3 separate regions of the Homo sapiens genome follow, and regions 1 and 2 are each reported to be linked to region 3. The links are microRNA targets in miRTarBase. Many come from high-throughput screens and were not tested one by one. Region 3 holds a microRNA gene; each other region holds the end of a gene's coding sequence.

Region 1 (10,676 bases), not on the chromosome of region 3:
CTATGAAAAACTATGTATTCTATAAAAACAGAAAGTAAAAGGTTTGATGGAGAAGGGACTACTTCAGGAATGTGTGATTGTTTGTGCAAAGACTTAGATATGGAAGAGGGAAAGCACCTGTATAAAATAAGAGATTATTCAATTTGTGAAGAAGGACAAGGACAAGTAAGTAGATGTTAGAGTTGGAGAATATTTTTCTTAATCTTGATTTTTCTTGCTTTCTATTTATGTTTGTATAAATATTGACTGAGTATCTGATGTTGACCGGGCCTGGTATAATGCTGGTGAATAAAAAACCAGTTCTACTCTCGAAAAGTTTTCTGTCCTAATGGTGATAGGCAGACACAAGATGTGAAACTCCAAAAAAGCTTATTCATTTGTTAATTCCTAACACCTGGCACAGCATATGGCCATAGTAGTAGACATTCTGTAAATGACTCTCCTAGCATCTAAAAGGTGAGAAGATAGGAAAAGCACTGTAACAATTCAGATGAAAGTGATCTGTGCAGGCACACTGAAGGAGAGAATTCGCTATCAATTTGAGTAATGTTTTGGTGTTAAAAACTGTTTGGTAGGCCGGGTGCGGTGGCTCACGCCTGTAATCCCAGCACTTTGGGAGGCCAAGGCAGGCAGATCACGACGAGGTCAGGAGTTAGAGACCAGCCTGGCCAACATGATAAAACCCTGTCTCCACTAAAAATACAAAAATTAGCTGGGCATGGTGGTGGGCCCCTGTAGTCCCAGCTACTTGGGAGGCTGAGGCAGGAGGATCACTTGAGCCTGGGAGGTAGAAGTTGCAGTGAGCTGAGACTGCGCCATAGCACTCTGACCTGGGCAACCGTGCAAGACTCCGTCTCAAAAAAACAAAAACAACAAAAAAACTGTTTGATAGCTATCTATATAAGCAACATAATAAAAGTCAAAAATAAGTCCCAAATTTTGGTTATAGATATATACCAGATGTATGCCTACATAAGGGTCTGTGGAGGAGCATTATACTTTACATAAAAGCAGACTCCAGTGATTGTCCTTTATGGAAATGGCTCATTAAATTTATAATTGGAAGTGCTGGAATCTCAATATTGCTGTTCCATTTGTTACAGGGTAAAGGAGCTGGAAGTGCGAAAATTGATGCATGTGAGAGGAGATGGACCCTGGTATTACTATGAGACAATTGACAAGGAACTTATTGATCATTCTCCGAAAGCAACTCCTGACAATTAAGCATTTTTTTCTCCAAATACAAAGTATATTCTCTTTATTGGAAAATAAATTAATAAATATATTCTGTATTTTTGCTCTCCGTGAAAAACAAAAGAGCCTCTGACATTACTGTCTCTCAGTGTTGGTTCAGATTGAGGCTTTTGTTTGAGGAGTTTGGCTTCCAGTCCCCAAAGAAGGTTTAAAATGTACTAATAAAAACTGGAGAAATAGGAATTTGTGAACTCCTAAAATTGTAGCAACTTTGAAAGGTTAGTGTTTTATTTACCTGACAAATGGAAGTTATAGAAGTCTAATAATGTTAAGCACCAGTAATTATAGTATTTTGTACAAATGCCTGTACTGTAGATGTCTGTATTATTGAGGGGCAACTCAGGATTTTAAGTTCCATAAAGTATTGAACCAACTCTAAAATGTTAACTCCTTAATAAACAGATTCTCAGTAAACAAATTTTAAAGTTTATAATGCTTTCATGGTTTTTTTTTTTGCCATGTATTGTTCTTTTTTAAACTACACACAGACACACAGACACGTACACACACACACACACACACACACACACACACGCTCTTTTCCTAGATGCAATCTCTGGGATCCCTTAGAGTCCTTTTTTGGGGAAGTAGTTGCACTAGGTAATGTGATTCCTGCAGAGATTATAAAATGTGAGTAAAAGCTAAAAATGACTCATTTATTAAGCATTTATTGTCTGCTAGACACTATATTAAATAACTGCATTTTTTAACATTATTTTCTTTTCTTTTTTTTTTTTTTTTTTTTTGACGAAATCTTGCACTGTCACCCAGGCTAGAGTGCAGTGCCGTGATCTCGGCTGCAACCTCCGCCTCCCGGGTTCAAGCAATTCTTGTCTCAGCCTCCCAAGTAGCTGGGATTACAGGCACCCACCACCACACCCGGCTAATTTTTGTATTTTTCAGTAAAGACTGTTTCGCTGTGTTGGCCAGGCTGGTCTTGAACTTCTGACCTCAGGTGATTGGCCTGTCTCCACTTCCCAAAGTGCTGATTACAGGCCTGAGCCACTGCACCCAACATTATTTTCAAAATGACAAGAGGTAGTATTTAGTACCTGAGGCTCAGATGTTAAACACAAACTCAGTATTTACAAAAATAAACATTTAAAACATTTACACTTCAACTTCCAAAATGGCTTTTTACCATAAACATTCAGGATTTTCAAACCTGTAACAGCTTATCAATGCATCTCATCTTAGAAGTATGTTTTACATTCTTCATAAAAATAAAAATGAACCCAGGCTTCCTAAGATTCAGGCCAGTGGGTCTCCACTTAAGGCCAAATGGAGAAATAATTTTTTGCTGCCTAAACACACAAGTGAATTGAAAAGCCACAGGCCATTCATTCAACAAATAACTTTATTATTTTTATTGATAATGTACTTGTAATGTGCTATTTTGATACATGTATGCAAAGTATAATGGTCAAATCAGGGTATTTGAATATACATATATTTCAAAATATAGTTATATATTTCAAAATAAGATATAGCAAGTTAGAAGTATATATAAGTATATTATTATATGTTATTGTTAACTATAATTTACCTACTGTACTATCAAATACTAGAACTTATTCCTTGTATCTAAATGTATTCTTGTAACCATTAACTAACTTTTCTGAATTTCCTACTCTCCCCTTCCCTTCCCAGCCTTGTAACCACCTTTCTACTCTGCCTCCATGAGACCCATTTTTTAATCTCCCACATATGAGTGAGAACATTCAATATTTGTCTTTCTAGGCTTGGCTTATTTCACTTACATTAATGACCTCCAGTTCCATCCATGTTGCTACAAATGACAGAATCCCATTCTTTTTCATAATATTGTCCATACATACCACATTTTCTATATCCATTTATCTGTTGATGGACACAGGTTGCAAAGGGATTGCTGGATTGTATGATAATTCTATGTGTAGTTTCTTGAGGAACCTTCATGGTGTTCTTCATAGTGGTTGTACTACTGTACATTCCTACCAATGGTGGATGAGCGTTCCCCTTTCTCCACATCCTCACAAGCATTTGTTATTTTTTCTTTTTTTTCAAATGAACATTTTAACTGGGGTGAGATATCTTAATGTGGTATTGGTTTACATTTCCCTAATTATGGTTGAGCATTTTTTCACATATCTAATGGCCATTCATATGTCTTCCTTTGAGAAATGTCTATACAGATCTCTGGCCCTTTTTTTAAATTTTTTTTTTTTTTGAATTGGGGTCACCCAGTCTGGAGGTGATCTGGGCTTCCACATCCTGGGCTCAAGTGATCATTCCACCTCAGGATGACCCAAATAGCTAGGACCAAAGGCGAGTGCCACCATGCTCAGCTAATTTTTTTGTATTTTTTGTAGCGACTGGGTTTCACCATGTTGCCCAGGCTGGTCTTGAACTCCTGTGCTCAAGTGATCCGCTCACCTTGGCCTCTCAAAGTGCAGGTACTTTAGGCGTGCCTGGCCTTTTTGTCCATTTTATTTTTTTGAGATGGAGTCTTGCTGTGTCACCCAGGCTGGAGTGCAGTGGTGCGATCTCGACTCAGTGCAACCTCCGCCTCCCAGGTTCAAGCAATTCTCCTGCCTCAGCCTCCTGAGTAGCTGGGATTACAGGTGTGCACCACCACACCCAGCTAATTTTTTTGTATTTTTAGTAGAGAGGGGGTGTCACCATGTTGGCCAGGGTGATCTTGAACTTCTGACCTTGTGATCCACCCACCTTGGTCTCCCAAAGTGCTGGGATTACAGGTGTGAGCCACTGCGCCCAGCCTGTCCATTTTTTAATCAGGTTATGGGTTTTTTGCTATTGAATTGTTTGAGTTCCTTATATATTCTGGTTATGAATCCCTTGTTAGATGGTGTGTTAGGCCATTCTTGTGTTGCTATAAAGAAAATCCTGAGTCTGGGTAATTTATAAAGAAAAAAGGTGTAAATGGCTCATAGTTCTGCAGACTGTACAGGAAGCATGGCACCAGCATTGCTTGGCTTCTGGGGAGGCCTCAAGGAACTTTCACTCATAGCAGAAAGCAAAGCAGGAGCAGGCACATCACATGGCAAGAGAGCAAGAGAGAGAGGTGGAGGAGATGCCACACACTGTTTTAAACAACCAGATCTCTCAGGAACTCATTGTTGTTAGAAAAGGAATTAAAAGAAATCAAAGAGTGTGTAAGCAGAAACTCAGTTGTACGTAAGAAAACCCAATTCCCCCTGAGAAAGAGAAAGAGCTGGAGTCCTTTAAAAATTCACTGCCTGTTTTTCTGGTGGCTAGTGAGTGTTAGCTCTCCTCCCTTCCCAGGCATTGTGAAGACCCTGTTTCCCTAGCTGTGCAGCTGCAAGGTCACTAGACAGATAAACTCAAGTCGCAAAACATGTTTTTCCTTGAAAAGTAAGAAATGATGTAATGCATGTCTTGACTGAATAACTGTCTTTGTTTCTTGCTTCTGTAATATGCTTCCCCCTGCACAGATCTCCCCCTGCCCCACGAAATGCTTAAAAGCTAACTTAACTCTTTGTTCAGGGCTCAGTCCTTTGGATGTTAATCTGACTGGGCCGGAGCACCTAAATAATAAATATTCTCCTGAACCCCATCGGTCTCTCTGATTCCTTAAAAATCCTGCAACATTGTGAGGACAGCATCAACAGGATGATGCTAAACGATTCGTGAGAAATTTGCCATTATGATCCAATCACCTCCCACCAGGCCCCACGTCCAACACTGGGAATCACATTTCAACATGAGAGTTGGGGGGACGAATATCCAAACTCTGTCATATGGATAGTTTGCAGATATTTTCTCCTACTCTGTAGGTTGTCTCTTCACTTTTTTAATTGCTTCCTTTGCTCTACAGAAGCTTTTGTAGCTCAACATAATCCCATCTGTCTTTCTATGTTTTTGTTGCCTGTGCTTTTGAGATCTTACCCAAAAAAATCTTTGCCCAGACCGATGTCCTCTATCATTTCCCCAATGTTTTCTTTTAATAGTTTTATAGTTTCAGGTCTTACATTTAATCTTTAATCCATTTCGAGTTGATTTTTATATATAGTGAAAGATGGGGATCTAGTTTCATTCTTCTGCATATGGATATCCGGTTTTCCCAGCACAATTTGTTGAAGACACTGGCAGCTATGTGGGATCTTTTGTAGTTCCATATACATCTTAGAATTTTTTTTTCTATTTTTGTGAAGAATGTCACTGGTATTGTGATAAGGATTGTATTGAATCTGTAGATTCCTTTGGGTAGTACAGACATTTTAACAATGTTGATTATTCCAATCCACGAGTATGGGATATCTACCTTTCCATTTTTTGGTGCCCTCTTCAATTTCTTTAATTAGTGTTGTATAGTGTTCCTTGTAGAGATCTTTCACTTCTTTGGATAAATTCATTCCTAGGTTTATGTTGTTGTTAGTTTGTTTTGTTTTTAGATTTCCCTATGCAATCTAATTACCACCTCATAATTCTGCCAAAGGATTTGGGAGAAGGGCATATTTTCTCTAAAGCCCCTGCTTATGCAAACCAGTTTGTAGAAGAGGGATAAAGAGAATTGAAGCAGATAGCTCTCGTACATGGTGATAGTAAATGATCCTAGATTTATATGCTTTGATATATTCACCTTAAAAAAATAACCTACAGGATGTTTTTTGACAGTTGTAGTTTTTACTTTATTTTCTCCTTTCTACTATTATAAATGTAAGAAAAGCTTAGAATAAAAAATATGGAAAATATACAATAAATACTGATAATCCTAACGTTCATAAAGACATTTCAGAAGTTTCCTCTAGGCTTTATTTAACACAGCTGGGATCACGTATAAAAAATGGGATCAGCTTTTGTGGTGGAGTGCGTGGCTCACGCCTGTAATCCCAGTACTTTGGGAGGATGAGGCAGGAGGATTGCTTGAGGTCAGGAGTTCAATGCCAGCCTGGCCAACATGGTGAAACCCTGTCTCTACTAAAAATACAAAAAATTAGCCGAACCTAGTAGCATACACCTGTAATTCCAGCTACTCAGGAGGCTGAGGCAAAAGAATCGCTTCAACTTGGGAGGCAGAAGTTGCAGTAAGCCAAGATCATGCCACTGAACTGCAGCCTGAGTGACAGAGCGAGACTGTCTCAAAAAAAAAAAAAAAAAAAAAGTAAAATAAAATGGGATTGACCTTTTTTTTCTTTTTTAAGTTGTAAAGTGTTTCTTGGGAAAAAAAAGTGTCAATTAAAGCTAATATATGTGTTTATATTGATTCTTATGCTAACTTTTTAAAAGTTCAAATAGTTAAACGTGTTCAATATTGGTCAAGGGAAAGAAAAAGGCACTTGGAGTAAGCACTTGGAGTAAGCTATGGGGTCCCAAGGTAGCCCAAGGGTTACTGGAATGACTGTGAGCTGTAACCCGAGGATGCGTGGAGGGAGGGGAAGAATACCATATTCCAAGTAGAGAAAATAAGAGGCAAGAGAAAATTGAAATGAAAACCGTTTGGAGAAGCCTGAAATATAGGGCATAAGTGAGTGAGGTGAGAGTGCGGATGAGATTATTTGCACTATTTCAGCTCTCGGTGAAGATTTGGATCTCATCCTAAGGACCATGAGATGTCATTGAAGTGTTTTAAATGGGGAAATGACATGATTGGATTTGTTTTTTAAAGATCACGCTGGCTACATGGCGGAGAACAAATTAAAGATAGTGAGTGTAAATTATTCATTCTCAATGGAATCAATATTATCCTTAAAGGGGACAAAAATTGGTTCTTGGGGGATAAAAAGATCTTACTTTTTTATGTACAAAGCATAGCTATACATACATGAGCAGATATATAGTACATTTGTGGTATTAAAATTTTATGGTAGGGGAAGGAACAATTTGGGGAAAAAAATCTAACATGCTCCATAGGGGGTGATAGTGGAAAAAATGATTGAGAAAAACTGACATAAATGCAGGGAAAACCAGTTGGAAAGTTGTTCTGATCATCCAAGTGAGAGATGGTGATCACAAGGTGAGGCCAGTAGCAATGGGGATGGATGAAAACAAATGTAAGAAATTGAATGATATTGAGGTGATAGAATTAACAAGACTTGGTGAATCAACTGAGTGTTTTGGGAAATGGAAATAAGGAGTGAAGCATAAATCCTATTTCTGGATTAACCAATGGGGTATTGCTGCTGTTTGCTGAAATGGGGAGGATCGATAGGAGAAACAGTTTTGATACAGAAGACGAGTTCAGTTTTGGACTTGATTTTGAGGTGCTCCAGATCCCTGCAGACCTTCTCTCCCATATAGTGTAGGGAGATAAAAGGACCTAGGACAGAGTCCTGGGAGACAGTAATATTCATGGCAAAAGAAAATGAGAAGGTGGTGTCACAGAAGCTAAGAGAAGAAAGTGTTTTGAGAGGGAAAAGTAAGGACTAAAAGATTAAAAGAGTTGATTTAGCAACCCGGGGGCCATTCGTGACCTCAATGGAAACAGATGCTATGGTTGAGTGGAACAGAAGCCAGTTTAGGCCGAGGAAGACGGGGAGTGATGGAAGGGAGGCAACTTCAAGACATTTGGCAGTGCAGAGGAGAAAAGAGGTAGGTAAATTTAACAGCACATGGAGGAGCTAGTCAATGGACAATTTGTGGGGAGAGGCTTCCATATATTAAATGCTGAGCAGAAAGGGTAGTAGAGAGGGAGAGGTTGAAGATAGAGATTAAAAAAAGGAGTACTTGATGGGCTGAGATATCTGGGAAGGCAGGAGGAAAGGAGATCCTAGGGAGGTGAAGGGAAAGATTAGGCAGTAGGTTTGGTGGTAGGAGGCTGGCATAGTTCTTACCTGATAATTTCTCTTTTTTGCTGGTGCAAGAGGAAAGGTCATCTGCTGAGAGGGTAAGGGGAAGTGGGATTTTGAGAAAACTGAGAAAAGAAAGTAGTTGCAGAGAATAGGAGAGTGAGATAACATGGGGAAAGTGGTCTTTTGACTAAGCATCATCGAGAGCCCATTTGAGATTGGCAACCATTTATTCATTGTGGCACTACCTGTGAAGTTGGTGGCCTCTTTTGGCAGCACTTAGTAGCCTGAGTGCATGTGCAGGGAAGGTAGATGTTGGAGGATGAAGGTTGCTTGGACAGGAGCAATGGAAGGACCATGGGGAAAGGAAACCTATGGCATTAAGGAGAGTGTCTGACACAATGAACCAGGAAATAATCTTCTTAGGGGAGGAAGTGAAGTGGGGAAGTGTGACGTTTAGATTGAAGAACTGGTGTATTATGCAAAATTGAGCATGGAAGCTGGAAGGATTTGAAGTTGTCTTCAAAGAGCGGACTCTCATTCCATTCTGCTTCTAATTAGCTCTTTATATCCTTGCTCATCTGGTATAGATCCCTGTTACTCAACTAAATTATATTGGTATCCTTCCTTCCAGTTTCCCCTTACTGCAAACCTTTCACCATACTTACCCAAAGTGATCTTTCTAATTTTTAAATCTAATCACACCCTCTGATCTTTAATAGCCTTCAGGTAGTGGCCTGAAACACTGTCTAATCTTTTTTTCTTTCTTTCTTTTTTTTTTTTTTTTTTGAGATGGGAGTCTCATTCTGTCACCCAGGCTGGAGTGCCGTGGCGTGATCTCGGCTCACCGTAACCTCTGCCTTCTGGGTTCAAGTGATTCTCCTGCCTCAGCCTCCTGAGTAGCTGGGACTACAGGTGCCCACCACCGTGCCTGGCTAATTTTTGTATTTTTAGTAGAAATGGGGTTTTGTCATGTTGGCCAGGCTGGTCTTGAACTCCTGACCTCCGGTGATCCACCTGCCTCAGCCTCCCAAAGCACGGGATTACAGGTGTGAGCCACCACGCCCAGCTGAACACTGTCTAATCTTACCCCCTACAAGTTCTCACATCACTCTGGCCCATAAACTTACTAAGCAACTTGCTCTTCCCAGAATAAGCCACATTGTCACATCTGCCATTTGAATGACTGATCATATTCTCATTCTTCAAGTCTTAGCTCAGAAGCTACCTCCTTTATGAAGTCAAAGGTGAACGCGTGCCATCCTGAATTCTTCCATAGGATGGCATTTTAAAAAATTGTTATGACATTTTCTATTGTATTAGGCTGTATACAAATCATCAGGTCTTACTGACCTGACAGCTCCTTTAGAAAAGGTGCCATGCTTATTCATCTTATTATCCCCAGCTCGTTTCGTACCCTCTGGAACACAGTAGACACTGAGTAAAGATCTGTTGAGTGGATGATATATGGGATTAACATGGTTTGGGGTTATCTTTATTCTTTTTTATTTTTATTTTTTAGACAGAGTCTCTGTCACCCAGACCAGAGTGCAGTGGCATGATCTTGGCTTACTGCAACCTCCACATCCCAGGTTCAAGTGATCTTCGTGCCTCAGCCTCTGGAGTAGCTGGGATTGCAAGCGTGTACCACCAGGCCCATTTAATTTTTGTATTTTTAGTAGAGATGGGGTTTCGCCATGTTGTCCAGACCGGTTTCCAACTCCTGACCTCAGGTGATCCGCCCACCTCCCAAAGTGCTGGGATTACAGGCGTGAGCCACTGCGCCCAGCCAGGTTTTGGGTTATCTTTAAATAATCTTTTTTCTTTTCTGCAATTCTACAGGAGCCCGGCATTATAAAAAGACATGGTGTAAGTTGAACAGACTTCAGACTAAATCCAATCACAAAGAAACATTGAACAAACAAACAAAAAATAAACACTTTATTTTGAAAACAGTGAGTGGACTGTGTTCATTAAAAATGTGAATATAGGCTGGGCGTGGGCTCACACCTATAATCCCAGCACTTTGGAGACCGAGGCGGACAGATCACCTGAGTTAGGGAGTTCGAGACCAGCCTGACCAACATGGAGAAACCCCGTCTCTACTAAAAATACAAAATTAGCCAGGCGTGGTGGCACATGACTGTAATTCCAGCTAGTCGGGAGGCTGAGGCAGGAGAATCGCTTGAACCCAGGAAGCGGAGGTTGCAGTGAGCTGAGATTGTGCAATTGCACTCCAGCCTGGGCAAGAAAAGCAAAACTCCATGTCAAAAAAAAAAAAAAAAAAGAATATAATCCAGGTGTGGTGGCTCATGCCTGTAATCCCAGGACAGCAGTTTGGAGGCAAAGGTGGAAGGATTGCTTGAGGCCAGGAGTTCAAGACAAGCTTAGGTAACATAGTGAGCAAGACCCCATCCCTACAAAAAGAATTTTAAAAACTATCACCTGTGGTCCTAGTGAAGCGTTGTTGTTCATCTGGGATAATGTCTGAGGTTGCCTCACACCAAGGAAATCAAGGATGCAGACACACAAGGAATGAGGTTAAGAGTGGAGGTTTAATAGGTGAAAGAAAGAGAAAAGCGCTCTCCTGCAGAGAGAGGGGCTCCCAAGAGCACATCTTCTGGGTCTGTGTTGAAATGCACAGGGTTTTATAGACTAGCTTGAGGAGGTGGT
Region 2 (11,050 bases), not on the chromosome of region 3:
GGAAGCTTCTGAGAAGGAATGAATGATGTGTGGCCCCAGCACAGCAGTACTCTTCTAAGAATTCACAGCTCTTTTTCTAAACTGCAAAGGTTTTTTAATGGCTGGACAAAAGCTGACTGCTAAATTTTTTTCATACAGAAGACCTGGATTCATGAGTTTCCTGGGAGAGAGGGAGAAGGGAGGCTCCCAATCCTTGACTTTATCTTGATCTTATCAGTTCCTGATCTGGTGGTCATGCAAGTAAATTGTTGTTTCAGGTTAAAGAACAAAGAGGACATTGTTTACCCCTTTGTTGTTAAAAAATGAAGTCTATTTTCAGATTTTAATCTCTGGACAAATGAAATGAGAGTTCTTGCTGTCTTACAGGTGATAAACAAAGGACTCTTTTTCTTGGGATCACTGATAGCCATCAGCAGTACCTACCTACTTATACACTACATGTCACCACGATCTTTCCTCCGCTTGAGAAGACCATGGAACTGGATAGCTCACTTCCGGAATACAACATGTTTCCCCGCAAAGGCCGTGGACTCCCTAGAACAAATTTCCAATCTCATTAGCAGGTGATAGAAAGGTTTTGTGGTAGCAAATGCATGATTTCTCTGTGACCAAAATTAAGCATGAAAAAAATGTTTCCATTGCCATATTTGATTCACTAGTGGAAGATAGTGTTCTGCTTATAATTAAACTGAATGTAGAGTATCTCTGTATGTTAATTGCAATTACTGGTTGGGGGGTGCATTTTAAAAGATGAAACATGCAGCTTCCCTACATTACACACACTCAGGTTGAGTCATTCTAACTATAAAAGTGCAATGACTAAGATCCTTCACTTCTCTGAAAGTAAGGCCCTAGATGCCTCAGGGAAGACAGTAATCATGCCTTTTCTTTAAAAGACACAATAGGACTCGCAACAGCATTGACTCAACACCTAGGACTAAAAATCACAACTTAACTAGCATGTTAACTGCACTTTTCATTACGTGAATGGAACTTACCTAACCACAGGGCTCAGACTTACTAGATAAAACCAGAAATGGAAATAAGGAATTCAGGGGAGTTCCAGAGACTTACAAAATGAACTCATTTTATTTTCCCACCTTCAAATATAAGTATTATCATCTATCTGTTTATCGTCTATCTATCTATCATCTATCTATCTATCTATCATCTATCTATCTATCTATCTATCTATCTATCTATCTATCTATCTCTATTTATTTATGTATTTAGAGATCAGGTCTCACTCTGTTGACCAGGCTGGAGTGCAGTGGTGAGATCTGGGTTCACTGCAACCTCTGCCTCCTGGGCTCAAGCAATCCTCCCACTTCAGCCTCCCAAATAGCTGGGGCTACCATGGTATTTTTCAGTAGAGACCGGGTCTTGCCATGCTGCCCAGGCCAGTCTCAAACTCCTGGCCTCATGTGATCTGCCCACCTCAGCCTCCCAAAGTACAGGGATTAGAGTTGTGAGCCACCGCTGCCAGCCCAGAGTTACCCTCTAAAGATAAGAAAAAGGCTATTAATATCATACTAAGTGAAGGACAGGAAAGGGTTTTATTCATAAATTAAATGTCTACATGTGCCAGAATGGAAAGGAAACAAGGGGAGACAACTTTTATAGAAATACAAAGCCATTACTTTATTCAATTTCAGACCCTCAGAAGCAATTTACTAATTTATTCTTCGACTACATACTGCAGCAGAACCAGCAATACACTTGATTTTTAAAAGCACATTTAGTGAAATGTTTTCTTTGGTTCATCCTTCTTTAACAGGCTGCTGAGTCACTCAGAAATCCTTCAAACATGATTAATTATGAAGATGAAACACTAGAGTCATATAAGAAATAAAAATTGGGCAATAAAATAAAATGATTCAGTGTTTCTTTTCTATATTGTCAATGAAAACCTTGAGTTCTAATAATCCATGTTCAGTTTGTAGGGAAAGAAAAAATAATTTTTCCTTCTACCCACTTTAGGTTCCTTGGCTGGGGCCCCTATAACAAAAGACAGATTGACAAGAGAAAAACAAACATAAATTTATTAGCGGGTATATGTAATATATATGTGGGAAATACAGGGGAATGAGCAAATCTCAAAGAGCTGGCGTCTTAGAACTCCCTGGCTTATATAGCATCGACAAAGAACAGTAAATTTTTAGAGAAACAACAAAACAAAGAAAAAGAGCTTTGAGTCTGTAGGGGCAGCAATTTGGGGGAAGCAAATATATGGGAGTTTGCCTTGTAGATTCCTCTGGTGCTGGTCTCCAGGCTGACAAGGATTCAAAGTTGTCTCTGAAACTCCTCTTTGTCATACTGCACATATAAAACGTCTTTTGTTTCCAACAAGAGGATTTTCTTTTTCATTCTAGAATTATCTCCTTGATAACTTGATCAGATATAGGACATGACACTGAATAGAGTCCAACAGTACAAAAAAAATTCAGTATGTTCTAGCTACTTCACACATGTGTACGCGACAGTTATTTTTACAGTAAGGTATTTTCGAGAAAAATGCATTACGTGTTTTGGAAAATAGAGTAATTTAAAAAATATATTTGAAATGAAAATCTCCAACACATTAGAAGATGATGATGTTAGATGCCCATCGTGTGCCACAAGTGGTTTTTTCATTATGTAAAGCACCCGTTGAATTAAAAGAATTTGTTTTTGTTCAACCTCTTCCTGAGGCCCAAGAGCATATGGGCAATTCGGATTTCCTGCTGGACCACAAGGTTCTGTTGATATTACATAGAACGGGTATTCCAGACACTTCTTATGATGAAAGTCCAAAAGTGGCATCCAATTTAAGGCCCCATCTTTCGTTGCCATTCTTCATTCCTACAAAGGACGAACTTGGATTACATCAACTTTGGACCCATTGGTTTTGTCGCTGTCGTCAACTGACAGTGATTCATCACTGGTGATGATAAAAATGATGGAAGAAGAGTTGAAAGTCACTTTTTTCTTTGGCCTGTCCCCATCTTTCTGTGACATCACAATGGGTCTGATCTGCATTTCACTTCCAGCTGCTGGTAGGTCTTTAGCAGGCCTCTGGCACCTCAGCAGTCGGAGGCACAGAAGCTGCAAAAGGGATCTTCGAAACTGGGCAGAGAAAAAATAAAGTGGAATATTAAGTAAAAGTTGGGCACTAATCTGGATTAACATTCGAGGAAATCAGTTGAGCTGAATTTAAGTTGTTTTTTGTTTGTTAGCAGGTGTGGATGTGGGGTTATGTGGTCATGCTCAGATCTACCTAAATCACCCCAGAGCTTTATGTCTTTTATTCATTCTAATTCTTATTAACCGGAATATGTAGGACCATTTCAATACCTTGTAATCCTCCAAGCTTCAATCTGCACACACTTTCTATGAGGGCAGGTACAACTATTAAGAGATTTTGAACATTAAGTTAGTCCACAAATATTCAGTGGGCATCTACTAGGTGACAGCCACTGTGCTATAATTAGAGACTTTTTACTATAAGCATCAAAAACAGATAAGGCTCTTCCTGGCAGAGTTTACAGCCTGGTGTACTTGCTAATGTCTCTTTAATTAGGTGAAGAATTTTTTTTTTCTATCGAAATTACTAATCAGTTGGGGAAAAAAATACTATAGCAGACAGCACTAATGTCATCAACAAACATTGTTCTTCTCCGTGTCCTGGGTACAACATCGAATAATATTTCTTGGCCTCCTTTCCGCTTCTCCTCTCTGCTGTTCCTCTCTACAAGAACCTGGGAGGCCAACGCCTAAAGATCATAATATCACACAATGGAAGGAACCTAGATTCCTAAATGACTGCATAGGACAGATCCCATCTCCTCCACCCAATACATTATTAGACTGAACTGTGACCTGAAATGAGCAATAAACTCTGTATTAATTCACTGAAATGTTGGGGTTGCTTGTTATAGTAGTCGGTCCATCATGACCAGTAAAACATAAATCAAAAGTTAATGTAATTGTTATCCCATTATTTAGAGCGAAATAAATGTTGAATATATGGACTTTCTCAGATTAGGAAATACCAATTAAAAATATAATAAATAGCTACATTGATTTCTGTCTTTTTTGTTTGTTTTTTGTTTTGTTTTGTTTTACAGCAAACACTGCCTGATAATGTCTTGAGCTCCAATCTTATGCAAGTTAGCATTCAGTTTATACTCACATTTAAAAATATTTATTTTTTCTATCTGATTCAAAAATTTAAAAAATAAAAATATTTGTTTGAGACTTTATTCACTAAACCATTGTTTGGTTAAGTGTTAAAGATACATTACTGTAAAGGTTAAATAGAGTATGTATGCCAAAAAACGTTTTTCCATATAAATGGTAAGCTCTTTGAGGACAAGGACCGTTGTTTTTATTTATTTGTTTTTGTTTGTATCTTTTAGACTTCCTGTTTAAAGTATGCCCTTAGGAACCAGAAACATCAGGACCATGTGGGAGCTTGTTAGACATGCAGAATATTGGGCAACCATACATACTGAAGGAGAATATTCATTTATTACAAGATTTCCAGGTGTGGTGTATGCACATTAAAGTTCTAGAAGCACTAATTTATAGCCCATTGGCTGAGAGAAAGAGTGCAACAAATAATTGTTAGTTAATGTATTTTAATTTTGTCTGTTGAGAGGGTGGTCCCTAAAATATCTTAACCTCTGATAGAAAATTAAAGTTATAAACCATCTCACTAGAAAAATTCATATGTGTGCATACTAAAAAATTGTTATAAACAATTTCCAGGGTTTCAGTGGCTCTTCTGAGGCCAACTCAAGGAATGTTTAGGTCCTATGGACTCCAAGTTTAAAATCTCTGGGTTAAAGGAAATAGACCAATTGAAGGCAACAAAACAGGGAAAGAAACACTGTCAGTGAGAGGAGATTAAGGCAGGTGAAAGTGAGTTTATGGAGAGTGTAAGCCAATAATACTCAAAGAGAAGGAAAGGCAAAATAAGAGGCAGAGAGATTTAGCACTGAACATAATAAGGTTATTACAAAAGTGCCCTCTTCTTCCACATTCTTGAGCATTAGAAGTCACAGTGATTATTATTGCCTGTTATTATTATGACCTGTTATCTTTAAAATTCCAATGGAGTAATTAAGCATTATCTTTAACTTTTAAATTCTCTGAAACGTAGAGGCTCAGCTTTATAATAATCATTTTGTGGGCTCTCCTAGCCATGACTCATAGCCATCAAGTCAAAACCTTTCAACTACAGAAACAGATGATAAGGAAGTTCCTCTTCTTTTTGAGACAGGGTCTCGCTCTGTCGCCCAGGCTGGAATGCACTGGTGCGATAGTGGGTCACTGCAGCCTTGACCTCCTGGGCTCAAGAGATCCTTTCATCTCAGGCCCCTGAGTAGCTGCGACTAAGGCACATGCCACCATGCCCAGCTAATTTTTTCTTTTTTTTTTTTGAGAGAGCGGGGCATCTCATTATGTTGCCCAGGTTGGTCTTGAACTCTTAGCTCAAGCAATCCTTCTGCCTCAGCATGCCCAAGTGCTGGGTTTACTGGCTTGAGCCACCACACCAGGCCCAGGAAGTTTCTTGAACCAAATTAATTTAGGCTAGACATTTGCTGTGGCATGTGAATAACAACCCAGGCCAATTGCTACAAGTATCTATAACCCCAAGTGAGGAGTTATAAGCACTGGATTTGGGGATTTGAGCAAACTAGGTTCAAATCCTGGCACCAATACTTCCTGGATTGGGCAAGTTATTTAACTTCTCTGAACTTATTCATAACCCATAAATAAAACAAGGAATAATATTAGTGCCTATTTTGTGGAGTTTTGTAAACTGGCTTGTAACTTGTTTGTGACTTGCTTGTAACTTGCTTGGTACAGTAGGAATTTTAAATGTATTATTAACATTGTAGCTGTTATTACTAGGCATAAACTATTTTCTGATGAATTAAATATTAGTTTTACTAGAATTCTACCTAACAAGTGTGAATCCCTATGGGTAGTTCTTAGAATTGTTATGATTTTCTTTGGAAATATTCTACATTTCTTCCAGATCCCTTTAATTCCTAAAAAATTCTTGTTTTTTTTTTAATTGAAGCGACTCTGAATCACCTCTGTAAAAGTATTACACTGTCATTTCCAACTCTATGCCCAGGGTGAAAACAATCAGTTAATTGCAAAGCTTACCTTTCTGATCATGAAGACATAAATCACTGGATTGTATACAGTGTTCGATTTAGCAAAGAGGTACGAAACAATAGATATTGTTGGAGTGACCAGGTGACCATGACCATTAACCACCAAGAAGCAGATCACGATATAAGGCATCCAACAGACCAGGAAGGTGAATATCATTAAAAAGCACATTTTGGCCAGTTTCTTTTCATATTTTAAAATCTTGATCACTTGAATTGTCTGAAGATCTTCCACACAACGAAGCTGCAGAAAGGAGAAAGAAAGGAAAGGGCTTAAAAAACAAAAGAAGGGTTTCTTTTGTTGTTTTTATAACAGATATTCAGACACCATTCTTGGCCCCACCTAAATGGAAAGAGAACTGAATGGCACCTTGGCAGGCTGACTTCTGATCCAAGACTCATAGCTGAGTCCAGCTTTAACCTTGCCGGGCCTCAGTCTCCCCACTTACAACATAGGGTGGTTGAGCTACAGAGCCTCCTACATCCTTCAGTGTTTTTTTTGACGTTCTCTTATTTACTTAATAAGAATAACATTATTTTGCCTAGATCTTCAAGTCTCTAAAAGACAGCCTGAGAGAGTCACGATAAAATGCAAAGAATTTCCCTGTGATCCTGGAAACTCTATAGAGTGTTAGTCCTCCAGTTCTCAAATCAGACTGCACACCCATGTCATGTCAGGTGTTCTGCATGATTAAGCCTGCAGCTGGCCTTGATGAGCACTTAATTCCCAAGTGAATTCTTACTGAAAACCAGCTTTTCAATTCACTGCTAATGACTGTAAAGTAGAATTTCAGGAGAAATTTGTTTGTGATTGGCTTCATTAGGGGATCACTTGCAGAGAACAGCACTTGGTAAAACAACTCCTTCCTCTAAAACCAGCCTGTCTACTCGCAGTCTGTTCCCATTAAAGGGATGGAGGAGTAATGATGTACAGCCTGAAAGTTCTTTGAGTTTCTTGAATATGTTTCTTTTTGCTGTTTCTCCTATTATTATATATGTGTCATAATAATACACAGGCAAAGAATATTTCTGCACACCAAAAATGTGTTCCTAAATCAAAATAGTTCTCTCTAAACATTGTAATAAGTTATATGAATTATACTACAAAAATACAAATACTCTATATATTGATTTTTTAAGTAGTTAGCATATAGTTAATACTTAGTATTGATTACTTTATGCCTGGAAATTTACTGCATTTCAATGAACTCTAAGTGTACCTTTTGGTTCTAGCATTATCATAAAAATTAAGAGAAAGAATTTCCAAAGAAATCATTTAGAACATGTGCTTAGATTATTTAGAAATATATTTTAATTAAAATTCTCAAATTACTGATATCCAAAATTATATTTAAGAAATTATATTCTTATCAAAATCATGTATTCAGATTAGCAAAGAATAGAGAGAAATAGGAAAAATTTAAATCATTGATTTTTTTAGGGTAGAGAGACTATGTGCAGGGAAAAGTGGGTATTAAATTTCTGGTATTAGTTTGGTGCAAAAGTAATTGTGGTTTTTGCCATTAAAGGTAAACCTTTGAAGGTCACCTTATTTAAAGGTAAATAATATTCCTTTACCACTATGCCAATTACTTTAAAAAATCAATATATAAAGTATTTGTATTTTTGTAGTAAAATTCATATAACTTATTACAATGTTCAGAGATAACTATTTTTATTTAGGAACATATTTTTGGTGTGCAGAAAGGTAAATAATTTACCTTTAAAAAAGGTTACCTTTAAAGGTTTACCTTTAACGGCAAAAACCGCAATTACTTTTGCACCAACCGAATACTACTATTCTGTGTGTGCAATTCTATTTTAAAAGAAACTGTTTTATTTAATGGGATAGAATATTTTTCTATTTTCAAAACATCATTTTGGGGGAGCTTCCCTAGTTTATAGGAAGGCTGTGGGGTTTTGATAAAAGGTCTAGATTTGGAATTAGAAGATCTAAGTTTATATCCCAGATTAACCACTTTTGCTCGCAGTGTGATATTGAGCAAGTCAACAACCTCCTCTAAGAGTAAACAAGAAAGGAGGTAAAGCAAAAAAACCTATGAGAATTAACAGAACTTGAGTTCCATTTCCACACGTATGACTTTGTGGGGTTGTTTTTGAGGTTAAATACTTATTTATATTTGAACTAGATATGAGACTAACACACTTGTATGTATATGTACATTTATGATACTATAGGATATCTGGAATCATTATTGACTCTTCAGAGTTTCAATTAACAAGCAACATAACCACATCTCAGTTATCTGCCTCCCAAACCTCCAGTATTTAGGTCCAATCGTTTTATCTGTACCATTTTCTGGGCAGGTCAGTCTTTATCCCCTCTCGCCATTTATCAAAGGAGAACACTCATTTATCCATCTTGGAATTACATGCATGCTGGGGAAATTAATTTAAATAAATGTTTGTCTATACATCCCCAGTTCCTCTTTGGGATAAGGAGAAGATATTGACTAATGTTTTAGATTATTTGGGTTTATATATGTGAAGTTTTCATGATTATTTTTTATTTATCTTTTTCAGGCCTCTTTCTTTCATTACTTTCTATTCCTTCATTCTGCTCATTAAATATTTTCCAAATAAAAAACTCGATTTCATGTCTTACCCTCTTTATTCAATCATTTGAGGATAGTTTTCAAAATTGCTATGGATGAAGCAATTTTGAAATGATTGGCACAGGCACAAATTTGTCCTAAAGAATGAACCAGCTAAGACAAATTCTTCAGAATTCTCTATCAGATTGTTCTCTGGCTGTATAAATGGCTGGTGCCTAGTGCTCCTTAATCCAAGACATCTGTAGATTTTCAAAGAATTTCACTGTGAATCTTCATTCTCAAGTGTGTAGCTATGTCTCCATCGTTGTTATGAGTCACCTCTCTCTGAATAAGGAAACGGAGGCAAATTACTTGCAGTGAGCTCTCTGTTTAGATAGCAGCTAAAGTCAAATCTCTTCACACTTTCACCCCTTCTCCTGTCTTCCCCTTTCTATGCCCTCTGCTTGTAACTCATTCCAAAAATAGTCACTGATTACCTACTACATGCAGACACTGTTCCAGTCACAGGTGAGAAAATACATAAGACCCAGTCTCTGCTCTTGAGGAATTCACTATTTGGTGAGGATGATGCACACTGAGCGGGTAGAAGCCATGAGGGAGGTAAACAGGGAGGATATGGTAGTACACAGGATGGGAAACTGGTTCTGAGGGTGGGTTAGAGCAAGAAAATCGTGCTGTTAGCCTTGTGAGGGAAGGAGGAATTAGTCAAGTAAGGAGGAGAGACAGAATGTTCCAGAGAAAGAAAGTGTGCTAAGACAAGAGGCAAAATAAAAAGTCAGTTTCTGAAAACAAGAAATATTACCATTGGCCGCATCATGAGGTGGCAAGAAGACAGGAGTGTCAAGAAATGAGGCTGGACAGGTAGACAGGAGATGCCATACAGGACCTGCCGGCCACACCCAGGGGCTTTATTTTGAGTCACAAAGACAGTGGAACTTCTGAAGGTAATACTTGAGAACAACTACTCTGATGGCAGTGTGTAAAGAATGGAATAGAGGAAAGCAAAAATTTTAAAAAGGAGAACTAAGTTTTTTTTTTTTAACTGAGTCTGTGGCAGTGGGAGAGGAAAAAATGGATATACCAAAAAATATAGGGCTAGGAGCAGTGGCTCACACCTGTAATCCTAGCACTTTGGGAGGCCAAGGCGGGCAGATCATGAGGTCAGGAGTTCGAAACCAGCCTGGCCAACATGGTGAAACCCCATCTCTACTAAAAATATTTTAAAAATTAGCCAGGCATGGTGGTGGGCACCTGTAATCCCAGCTACTCAGGAGGCTGAGGCAGGAGAATTGCTTGAACCTGTGAGGCGGAGGTTGCAGTGAGCCGAGATTCTGCCATTGCACTCCAGCCTGGGCAATAAGAGTAAAACTTCGTCTCAAAAAACAAAACAAAACAAAACAAACAAACAAACAGAAACAAAACGAAACAAAAAAACATGTAAGTGGCATGGATAAGAACTGATCAATAGTTGTGTGTTGGGGGAGACATGGATGACACATAGTCAAAGATTACTCCCTAATTTCTGGTCTTGGTATCTAGGAATGATGACTATTCAATGAGAAAGCAAATAGACGAGCAGAAGATTTTAGGGAAAATATGACAAATTAATCTTTATATTTGTTAAATTTGATGAGTCTGTGGACCATCCAAGTGGAGGTGTTCAAGAGGCAATTGACTACGAGGATCTGTTAGAGGCTGGAAGAAAGACCTGAACTGGAAATGGAGATGTTATCAAGCTTGTGTCAGAAGGAGAAATCCTGGCAGTATGAAAGACCACCCAAGGCCAGTGTGTAGCATGGGACAAGAGCTAAACATAGGATGCTGGGGAGGCCCAAAGAAGAGAAGCCCTTGGAAGAGATAAGAAGATGGCGCCAGAGAGTCAGCAACAAAGACAGCAGAGAAAGGCGCCCTAGAATCGATGGCAGGAGACCACCACAAGAAAGTAGAAGTTGGCAATAGTCTCAAACGCTGAGGATGCTAGAAAGGAATAAAAATGTGTCCATGGGATCACATATCTGGGAGCTCATCAATGACCTGAAATGAGGGCTGTATTAGTGGCAGTGCGGTAGAGGAAGGAGTCACAAGTTTGCCTTAAGTTGAGGAATGAATGCTAGATAAACTTACTAAACTACCAACTCCCTGAACTACAACAGAAATGTATTTCTCACAGTTCTGGAGGCTGGGAAGTCCCAGGTAGAGTAGCTGGCAAGGTAGGTATCATTCTGAGGCCTCCTCTCTTGACTGTTATCTCACTGTGTGCTTCCATGTTCTCTTATTTATGCACTCGTGGGAAGACAGAAAGAGAGA
Region 3 (11,050 bases):
TAAAAATGGTTACTGGAAAGATAAGTACATGTATGACGTATTACATTCCCCCCCTCCTTTTTTTTTTTTTTTTTTTTGAGACAGTCTCGCTCTGTCGCCCAGGTTCGAGTGCAGTGGCACAATTTTGGCTCACTGCAACCTCAGCCTCCCGGGTTCAAGCCATTCTCCTGCCTCAGCCTCCCAAGCAGCTGGGACTACACTCATGTGAAACCATGCCCAACTAATTTTTGTATTTTTAGCAGAGACGGGGTTTCACCATACTGGCCAGGCAGGTCTCAAACTCCTGATCTTGTGATCCACCCACCTCGGCCTCCCAAAGTGCTGGGATTACAGGCATGAGCCATCGCACGTGGCCACATTATATTTCTATTTGAGTAGTGTCTTAAGAGTAACAAACTGGCTTTCAGACACATACAATAAAGACAAAAAAATCCTAGTTCAATAAAGAATGAGAAAGTAGGATAAAGCAAATGAACAAATTTCCCAGGCCCAGTGCGGTGGCTCACTGGCCCGGTTCACGCCAGCACTTTGGGAGGCCAAGGCAGGTGGATCACCTTAAGTCAGGAGTTCAGGACCAGCCTGGCCAACATGGTGAAATCCCATCTCTACTAAAAATATAAAAACTAGCCAGGCATGGTGGTGGGCACCTGTAATCCCAGCTACTCAGGAGGCTGAGGCAGGATAATTGCTTGAACAAAGGAGACAGAGGTTGCAGTGAGCTGACACAGTGCCACTGCACTCCAGCCTTGGCGACAGAGTAAGACTGTCTCAAAAAAAAGAAAAAAATTTCCTTTCCTTCACTTATATTCCTGAAGATAGAGATAAGGTCTTCTCCCAACTGTACTTATACCTCAGGTAATATCAAGAAAGTAGTGACATGATATATTACAATTCATAGGCATTGAGTTGTGAGATTTGCTCCTTTGTATTAAGCACTTGAAGAATTACTAAGTTTTTCCAGCTCATCTAGGGTAGAAAGCCATGCCATTTTCTTAGGTCCACTGACCTCTTTACTTCCAACTTCTAGACTTAAAGATACTAGATAACAGCAGAGACCAAACATATGATTGCCAAGTCCCTAACCACAGTTAAATAAACCTCCACTTTTCAATCCCAGAGCTACTCTCAGTTTCCCAAAGGATGGGAGAATCTGAAGCAGGCAATTATTCTGTGCAAGCGTTCTTCAGCAGGCTGTAACAATTGCTAGATTGAATTGCTGTGGTCCAGAATCACACAGCAATTATTGCAAAGCACTGAACTACTCTTTAAAAAAAAAAAAAAAAAAAAAAATTTATGAGACAGGAGACAATTTAGCACATTCAACTTTTTAACAATTTAAAAGAGATTATGAAATATACAAATAAATAAGTTAAAAGAGCCCTATTTTTGCTCCAAATTAAGTCAAATTAATACACGTGGCTAATGAGAAAATAGATGACAAAGAGATATATGGTATAATGGAAACAAACAAGAGCATAATGGAATCTTGTTCTGAGTCTAATGATTTGAGCAAAGTAAGCTTTGCATCCATTTAGCTATTTGTAAAATAACAGTGATCTGAACTTTTTGATTCCTTCAAGCTGTTAAATTCTGTGCTATCAGCCGGGCGTGGTGGCTCACACCTGTAATCCTAGCACTTTAGGAGGCCGAGGCAGGTGGATCGCCCAAGGTCGGGAGTTCCAGACCAGCCTGGCCAACATGTTGAAACCCCATCTCTACTAAAAATACAAAAATTAGCTGGGCATGGTGGCAGGCACTTGTAATACCAGTCATTCGGGAAACTGAGGCAAGATAATCGCTTGAACCTGGGAGGCGGAGGTTGCAGTGAGCCAAGATCTCGCCGTTGCACTCCAGCCTGGGCAACAGAGTGAGACTCTGTCTGGGGGGGGGGGGGGGGGCGGAATCTGTGCTATCAAGAGAAATAAAATGAGATCATTTTGAAGGGAGAAAAGGGGTGAGGGTGAAAGCAGGAGAAAGTTATGGCCACTTCCACCCAGTATTTCTATTAAAACACAAATGCACTTCCAGAATTTTGTAAAAAGAGCAAAAAGGACTGAAAGTAAATTGTATAAAATCAAGATGATATGTCCATTTGCAAAAATAGTTTGTAAGTCTAAAGGTAATAACAGCAGATAGCTCCAGAGTAAAAATTTTAGTCTATAAAAAGTAGTCAGGTATACCTGAAGGTAGAATTCATTGGCATAGTGTATTTTAGTTTATTTTTTAATTTTATTTGCGACGGAGTTTTGCTCTGTTGCCCAGGCTGGAGTGCAGTGAGGTGATCTAGGCTCACTGCAACCTTTGCCTCCTGGCTTCCAGCAATTCTGCCTCAGCCTCCCGAGTAGCTGGGACTACGGGCACATGCTACCACGCCCCCCCTAATTTTTGTACTGTTAGTAGAGACGGGGTTTCACACTATGTTAGCCATGCTGGTTTTGAATTCCTGACTTCAAGTGATCTGCCCTCCTATATAGGTATAGATATAGATCAGTGCCTCCTATATAGGTAAACAATAAATATAATTATTTGTTGATACATTTCTTAGAATATTAATGTAACCCCAAAATTACTGGTAGGATAAATAAGACTTGGATCAACAGTGAACATATGCTTTGCATGTATGAAGTTTTTCAATATGACCCTGCTAATCTCCAAATGCCTAAGGGCGGGCAATATCCCCAAAGACTAGAACAATGCGTGGCCAAATATGTTAAATACACACACACACACACACACACACACACACACACACACACACAAAATTCCCCTGTGAAACTGGCCTACATTTCTAAATCACAAATTTAGCCAGGTAACAACCTAGCTTAAAATTCGTGGACTCTTTCTTTCACTTGGTTCTTCCAAAAAAGTTTCACACTGCTCATCACCGGCATAGTCATTCTAGCCTCTAATCACACAATAAAACCCACCACCTAATTCTAACCCACCACCTAACACTTAGCTCAAACCCTGTGCTGCTGGGGAAGTTCCCTTCTCCTCTACTCCAACTTCTTGCTTCGGGGCGGACTGTCTCTAGTCTGTCTGTTGTCTCCCCTCTGAATCTACTTGCTTTTCATTTTCCTTTTCTATAAGCTTTCTTGTCAAAAGGAAAAATTACTGATTGGACCAATTGACGCTGAACATGCCTTAAAAACTAGTAAACTATTCCAAAAATCTCCGTGATGATTTCATGTTCCGTTTCTTCACTCCTGAGAAAAGCTGTGCTCCTCCCCTTACCCTTGCAGACTATCCTGCCTGGTGGTCTGGCATCTTCCCGATGTCCCGTGGGCTGCAGAGATGGAATCAGGGGGTGAGGGGGAAGCAAAGCAAGGCAGAGCTGGGTACAGCCTAGAAGAGGTTAAATAAGGTAACTGCTCGAGCGAAAGCCATACGTACTGGAACGCCATCGGGAACCAAATTTACTAATATATAAACTCACGTTAGAACGCCATTACATGGTGGAAAGTACACGTGACACAATAGGCTTTCAACAAGTTCTAACAGGAAGTCACAGCACTCGACACAACGGAAGTATCCATTTTCGCGCCAAGAGCCAGGAAGCACTTTCTGTTAACACAAGTTTCCTGCACATCCCTAATTTTTTAGGCGCCATATTCCTCACTCAGTACTAACAAAGTGTATGTGGCTTCTCCTTAGCCAGACTCGATTACAAGCACTGCATGCATTACTCAGTGTGATAAGATCATGATAATCCCTTTAAAAAGATCGCCCGAATTTAAGCCTGGATTAGGAACACGTGTTTACAGCTCTAATATCGATAATTTAAGTGGCTCTTAAAAGAGCCTTTGGGGTTGGGCTTTAAGACGCTTACTTGGCAAGTTTACTTAGCGCTGGTGTACTTGGTGACGGCCTTGGTGCCCTCGGACACGGCGTGCTTGGCCAACTCCCCGGGCAGCAGCAGGCGCACGGCCGTCTGGATCTCCCTGGAGGTGATGGTCGAGCGCTTGTTGTAATGCGCCAGGCGGGAAGCCTCACCCGCGATGCGTTCGAAGATGTCGTTGACGAAGGAGTTCATGATTCCCATGGCCTTAGAGGAGATGCCGGTGTCGGGGTGGACCTGCTTCAGCACCTTGTACACGTATACGGAGTAGCTCTCCTTGCGGCTGCGCTTGCGCTTCTTGCCGTCCTTCTTCTGCGCCTTAGTCACGGCTTTCTTCGAGCCCTTCTTGGGCGCGGGAGCGGACTTCGCTGGTTCCGGCATGTTGAAGGCGAACTACGAGCCTGAGACGAGCAGCAGATCGAGAAAACGGGAAGTAATGGGAGCAAGGTACCAGGAGTCGTTTTTATATAGGACCTCTCATGCAAATAAGGTGAAGAGTGAAAGTCCTGTATCTGATTGGTGGTTATTAGGGTGACGTCAGAGGTTAGTTATACCCAATCAACCCAATCTGCAAATCCAAAAGACGTACTTCCATTGGTTAAAACTAAGCTACAACCCTAACCAATGACATATCTTCTTTTTCGCGCCCAATAGTGTTTATAAAAGGCGCTGCCTTTCCTCGTTGGCTACTTTCAGTAAGTTGTGACCAGTATGTCTGGACGTGGCAAGCAAGGCGGTAAAGCTCGCGCCAAGGCCAAGACCCGCTCTTCTCGGGCTGGGCTTCAGTTCCCCGTGGGCCGAGTGCACCGCCTGCTCCGCAAGGGTAATTATGCCGAGCGGGTTGGAGCCGGCGCGCCAGTGTACCTGGCTGCGGTGCTGGAGTACCTGACCGCTGAGATCCTGGAGCTGGCTGGCAATGCGGCCCGCGACAACAAGAAGACCCGTATCATCCCGCGTCACCTCCAACTGGCCATCCGCAACGACGAGGAGCTCAACAAGCTGCTGGGCAAAGTCACCATCGCGCAGGGTGGTGTCTTGCCCAATATCCAGGCCGTGCTGCTGCCTAAGAAGACTGAGAGCCACCATAAGGCCAAATAAGGAGCGAGGTTGTGAAAACTGGAAAACAAAGGCTCTTTTCAGAGCCATTCTACACTGTCTTAGAGAAAGCTGGACACAGTCATGTTTGTTTCACTTCATGTTTGCTTCGCTAGATAACATTGTAAAGCGCTTCTTTCGCGGTTGGGCTGGAGCAACTCTTTACAATGTTTCTAAATTAACCCACTGGAAAGCAATGAAGACCCAAAAGTTGTTGTAGGATACTCCGGAGAAGCTTATTCAGCAGGGGTAATAAGTGAAATCAAACGTACAAATCCCTGAAATCTATTTACTAATTCCAGTGGTTTTTTTTTTTTTTTTTTTTTTTTTGAGATGGAGTCTCCAACAGGCTGGAGTGCAGTGGCGCGGCGCGATCTCGGCTCACTGCAACCTCCACCTCCCAGGTTCAAGCGATTCTCCTGTCTCGGCCTCCCGAATAGCTGGGATTACAGGCACACACCACCACGACCGGCTAGTTTTTTTGTATTTTTAGTGGAGACGGGGTTCCACCATGGTGGCCAGGCTGGTCTCGAACTCCTGACCTCAGGTGATCCGCCCGCCTCGGCCTCCCAAAGTGCTGGGATTACAGGCGTGAGCCACAGCGCCCGGCCTCCAGTGTAATAATTCTATTACATTAATAGTGTTGTCAAACAGCCATAAAAATGGGATATACTTGCCATTCTTTAAAGGCAAATTTTGCAATTCTAAGTATTCTTGAAAAGCAAGAAAGGGCAGCCTGATTCTTAAGTGGTCTAACTCTTAAGAGTAACTTTACCCAGGTGATGAAAGTCTAGTGACTCATTTGCATTAGAATTTGATTCCGATGGAAGGAGAATATGGGATGCAGAATTTCCTGAATCCCATATTTGTAAATCCTTAGTCCCATTTCTTTGGAGCAGGTGTATTAATGCACTCTTGTAGTAGCTTAGGATACAACATAGCTTTTTCTGTCTAGCTAATTTGTATTATCAAATTTATTAGATCGGGATTGCTATTGCTTTTGATTGCTTGTCCACATTAATTTACCTACCCTAGGAAGCCCTATGAGTTTCCTTCCTCCGCCCCACCCCCTCTTGATATTACTTGGCCTGCTTTTACTTCATAGCCTCAAGGCTTTCTGGCTATTCCCACAAAATGCCAAACACATTTTCTGTCTTAAGGCCTTTGCACTTTAAATTCCCTCTTCCCCTGATAACTACCTTTCTCACTTTTTTTCAATCTATGTAGGTCTCTGATCAAGTAACACCTATAAAGAGGTCATCTTTGTTTATCTCCTCTCTAAAATGGAGGGCCCCATTACGCTCTCTATGCCTATGGGGATAGGATATATATTAATTGAAATATTACATGTATACATCTTTATTTTTTCTCTACGGAATTCAAGCCACTTAAAAAAGACACCAAAAAATAGTATTAACTTTATGTATTTCACAAAGATTTAAGAGGACATAGTTTGTAATTCAATACACATAGATTTGTTTGCTACTCCCAGTCTTTGCATGCAGAAGCCCAATTGAAAAAGAAATGCAAGAGATGCAGAACGAGAAATTATAATGTAGTGACATATGAGTTCTCGATAAACAGATGCTGAGATGGAGTTTGGGATGCAAAATGTTTATTAGGGCTCAATATCTGTGAAGGGGTGAAGGAAATAGGATTGGGCAAAGGAAAATGTCAAACTATGATACAGGCCAGACAAATGCTCAACCAACCCAGTGGAGAGCTCTGGAGCCAGTATGCCTGTCAAGTTGCCCCCACATTGGGCCAAAGGGGCTCTAGACCACCCTTTTTAACTCCTCTGTGGGTCACTGAATGAGGACTGCCCGGGGAAGGATGCAGCCTTGAGTGGGGAGGAGCTCTGCAGCTGAGGCAAACACTGAGGAAGCTAACAGCTGGTGTCTATCTGCTAACTGTGCTCTCTGCAGTTGGGCTGCAAGCCCTTCCTTGAAGGAGGATCTGGGCAGTGTATTTCCATGTCTATGACATATATTAACATGAATATAAATATCAATGTTAAGTAAGGTCTATGATAGTATCTGTGAGACTGACTTTAGCATGCATAAGTGCATAGCTGGTATTGCTCTTTGACTTTTTTTCTTTTTCTTTTTTTTTTTTTTGAGATGAAGTTTTGCTCTTCTTGCCCAGGCTGGAGTGCAATGGCCTGATCTCGGCTCACTGCAACCTCCACCTCCCAGATTCAAGCGATTCTCCTGCTTCAGCCTCCTGAGTAGCTGGGATTACTGGTGTGTGCCACCACTCCCGGCTAATTTTGTAATTTTAGTAGAGTCAAGGTTTCACCATGTTGGTCAGGCTGGTCTCGAACTCCTGACCTCAGGTGATCTGCCTGCCTTGGCCTCCCAAAGTGCCAGGATTACAGGCATGAGCCTGTAATTACTTTCATCAGGGAATTTAAAGGCCGGGGAGGGGCGGGTCTTTTCTTTTTAGAGAAATAAGAAAATGTACAGACATTCTAAAAATCTTTATTAGTTTGATATACTCCTGTAAGAGCTTTAAATGCCTCAATCATTGCACATGGAAGGTGATAGAAAACAATTATAAAAGAAATGGGAGATTCTTCCACTAACTTTTCCTACCCCAGATTCAGCAAATCTCTTTACTTTTCCTGTACTGAGAAATAATCCAGCTTTGCCCCATACTGAAGAAACTTCAGAATGAATATTTGAGGCTCAAAAGAGAGGAGAGGAAACCTTTAAAAAAACCATGGAATGAGTTTCTGTAGTATGGTGGTTATCACGTTAGTCTCACACGTGAAAGGTCCCTGGTTCGAAACCAGGTGGAAACACATTTTAGGCTGGGTGCGGTGGTTCATGCCTGTAATCCCAACACAAAAACTTAGCCGGGCGTGGTGGCAGCTGCCTATAGTCCCAGCTACTTGGGAGGCTGAGGCAGGAGAATTGCTTGAGCCCGGAAGGCGGAGGTTGCAGTGAGCCGAGATTGTGCCACTGTACTCCAGCCTGGGTGACAGAGTGAGACTCCAGCTCAAAAAAAAAAAAAAAAAAAAAAAAAACACCTATAAGAGATATTTGGTGCCGACCACTTATGGGCTACATATGCAATATGAATGTGCTTATTTATTTCTCACAACCTTTTGAGGTGGGTATTGTTTGGACTCTAATTTGGAAAAGAAAGTGTGGTGTTACTTATCCAATCAGATTCTCAATTAGTAGGAGAAAAAGCTATCAGAATATTATCTACTCAACATGGAACACACACATAACTGCCTTCTCTTAACTATCTGGTCTCATGTGCTTTAGTCTAAGGTATATAGAAACTTGGGTAAGAATTGTTAAAGGGAGATGTTGAAAGGTTCTACCAGAAGAGTATCATGATCATATCTGAATTAATAGATACCAAATGAGAAAGAATAAAACTAGACTTAATTATTCAAACAGTGTTTACAATAGTTTAAAGTGAATAGCTAAAGATTCCTGAAAATGGGAATCACACTTAAAATATATACTTTAAAAAAATATATTTTTAAAACACACACAATTTTTAAAATGCATACATACATGCTTTTCCTCAGTTCCGCCCTTCCCCCTCATCTTCATACCTATTACAGATGGAGTCGTTGTCATGCATTCCTTGTAAGGAATAATTCTGAGAAAATCAAAATAGTAAAGTCACATCTAAAAATATGTGAAGGTTTATACCCCAGAGGAGCTGCATGATTTAAATAATTAACAATGACAAAATATGGGAAATATATGTGATTATGGATAATGAAGGGTGCTTAACTAAAGACGGAATAATATAATTTTATATCAGGCTAACTATTGACATGGCTTCACTTACCTGGGAAGCTAGATTCTATGTGTAATAGTAAACACCTGGGAGGAATAGTGATTGTTTACAAGGCTGACTGGTATCTGGACTCAGAACTGGCCATCAGTAAATCAACTTGAGATCCCAAATATGCCTTGGAATCACACAAAGGAAAACACCAAAAAAAAAAAAAAAAAAAAAAAAAGGAGGTAAAATTGCTGGTGTACGTTGATATTGCTTGACTTATTAAAAGCTAACTTTATTCACAGCAGAATTGCTAACTTTTTTCTATTCACAGCAAAATTGCCATTTTTGAAGAAACCAGTGCATTTTCTAATTTACTTGAAGCTGTAAGATTTAATAAAATTAACGGACTGGAATTAGAAAGTGTATTCAGGGATTGGTCTGTCTGATTCTATCTGGTACTCCTGTAGCTTTGCACTTGCGATTTCCCAAGCCCAGAGTGTTTGTCCTACCAGCCTCTCCTTGGGTAACTCCTATTCATTCTTCAATTTTCATAATATGGCACCTCCTCAATGAGGTATTCTCTTATTCTTAGTTCTCGTTATGCCTTCTGGGTTTACCAGATCAAGTTCTTTTTTTATTTTTTTGAGACGGAGTCTTGCTCGGTAGTCCAGGCTGGAGTGCAGTGGCGCGATCTTCGCTCACTGCAACCTCCGCCTCCTGGGTTCAAGTGATTCTCCTACCTCAGCCTCCCAAGTAGCTGGGATTACAGGCGCGTGCCACCGCTCCCTGCTAGGTTTTTTGTATTTTTTCTACAGATGGGGTTTCACTGTGTTAGCCAGGACAGTCTCAATCTCCTGACCTCGTGATCTGCCGGCCTCAGCCTCCCAAAGTGCTGGGATTAGAGGCGTGATCTTCCGCGCCCAGCCCAGATCAGGTTCTTAAACTCCACATCATCACCGCTTCTCAGCCTTTTGGCTAAGACCAAGTGTTTTCAGCCTTTTGGCTAAGATCATCTGTTCTTATGGGTTTAAACTCCATGTCAATGACTATATTTTGAAAGTAAATATCTTATTTGTATTTTCATTTAATATCTGTAAACACAGCAGCATATAAGCTAAAAGAGGTCAATATGTCAGCCAGTGTCCCATCAGGAGAGATTAGTCCTTCAAATTGGGTACTTTGGGCCTGATGCAGTGACTCATGCCTGTAACCCCAACATTTTGGGAGGCCGAGGCGGGCAGATCACTTGAGGTCCAGAGTTCGAGGCCAGCCTGGCCAACATGGTGAAACCCCGTCTCTACTAAAAATACAAAAAAATTAGCCAGGCGTGGTGGTGGGCACCTGTAATCCCAGCTACTCAGGAGACTGAGGCAGGACCTTGAACCCAGGAGGCGGAGGTTGCAGTGAGCTGAGATTGCACCACTGCACTCCAGCCTGGGTGACAGAGCAAGACTCCGTCTCAAAAAACAAACAAACAACAACAACAACAACAACAACCAATTGGGTGCTTGAAGATTGAAAAAGAAGTGAGCAAGGTGTTAGGAAGCCACAAGAGATAGTGCAGTATTTTGAAGCTAATACCATATATAAGTAATTACCACACCTAGGCCCAAAGGGGCAATGAGAGGAAAGGAAATCTGGAAACAGAAAGAACTCCTTCCTCTCTCTGACATATTTTCACTTTTCATCAGCCAAATTTGACCAGCAGCCAAAGGACAAGGATCAAATTCATGTATAGATCAGCCTCCTAGGGACACAGGATGAAAGAAGGGGACAGTGGGCCGGGCACGGTGGCTCACGCCTGTAATCCCAGCACTTTGGGAGGCCGAGGTGGGCATATCACAAGGTCAGGATATCAAGACCATCCTGGCCAACATGGTGAAACCCCGTCTCTACTAAAAATACAAAAATTAGCTGGGCATGGTGGTGGCCGCCTGTAATCCCAGCTACTTGGGAGGCTGAGGCAGAAGAATCGCTTGAACCTAGGAGGCAGAGGTTGTAGTGAGCCAAGATTGCACCACTGCACTCCAGCCTGGGTGACAGAGCGAGACTCTGTCTCAGAGAAAAAAAAAAAAAAAAAAAAGAAGAGGACAGTGAATCTAGGCTGGCAAAAGTAAATATCTAGCACAGTCCATCCCTTTTGCCCTTTGGCATGTACTATCCTTTTCTCAAGTGAAAAGTCTGCATTGCATTCCAACATGGAATTTGTGAAATCACAGCCAGCTCATGGGGGTGATGCCAGTTTGTTCATAATCCTACTTTAAAACTAAAATGTTAGTCTTCACCTTCCTAGAATGTACTGGGGTAAAAAGTGAGAAGTACTTAGTTAACATAATACAAAGCTGTTATGAACCTTGCTTCTGT

The links. Region 3 holds the annotated microRNA hsa-miR-3143 (AUAACAUUGUAAAGCGCUUCUUUCG, at 5,050-5,074, shown strand). A microRNA usually pairs through its seed, bases 2 to 8, with sites in the 3' UTR of a target mRNA and lowers its output. Matches are read on the target gene's strand: a 7mer-m8 pairs with bases 2 to 8, a 7mer-A1 pairs with bases 2 to 7 and ends in A, and an 8mer does both.
Region 1: miRTarBase lists NDUFB5 as a target of hsa-miR-3143. Seed matches in the 3' UTR shown: 8mer at 1,519-1,526, 8mer at 1,634-1,641, 7mer-A1 at 2,318-2,324 and 7mer-A1 at 4,777-4,783.
Region 2: miRTarBase lists KMO as a target of hsa-miR-3143. Seed matches in the 3' UTR shown: 7mer-A1 at 710-716 and 7mer-A1 at 961-967.

Annotation. Positions count from the first base shown.
Region 1 is chr3:179,622,817-179,633,492 of GRCh38, forward strand. It overlaps NDUFB5 (NADH:ubiquinone oxidoreductase subunit B5), which reads left to right. Exons shown (of 6, transcript NM_002492.4): 6 at 1,104-4,831. The coding sequence ends at 1,224. Among named protein-coding and RNA genes, the nearest start is that of NDUFB5, 23 kb to the left of the region's middle.
Region 2 is chr1:241,591,587-241,602,636 of GRCh38, forward strand. KMO (kynurenine 3-monooxygenase) reads left to right here. Exons shown (of 15, transcript NM_003679.5): 15 at 367-4,056. The coding sequence ends at 567. OPN3 (opsin 3) reads right to left here. Exons shown (of 4, transcript NM_014322.3): 3 at 6,160-6,411; 4 at 1,538-3,105. The coding sequence ends at 2,842. Among named protein-coding and RNA genes, the nearest start is that of CHML, 43 kb to the right of the region's middle.
Region 3 is chr6:27,142,580-27,153,629 of GRCh38, forward strand. MIR3143 (microRNA 3143) reads left to right here and starts at 5,047; the gene lies at 5,047-5,109. It overlaps H2BC12 (H2B clustered histone 12), which reads right to left and starts at 4,276. Exons shown (of 1, transcript NM_001312653.2): 1 at 3,782-4,276. The coding sequence starts at 4,219. The coding sequence ends at 3,839. H2AC12 (H2A clustered histone 12) reads left to right here and starts at 4,527. Exons shown (of 1, transcript NM_080596.3): 1 at 4,527-4,983. The coding sequence starts at 4,550. The coding sequence ends at 4,936. RefSeq lists enhancers at 3,174-3,283, 3,703-4,619, 3,874-4,333, 4,664-4,913 and a silencer at 6,693-6,742.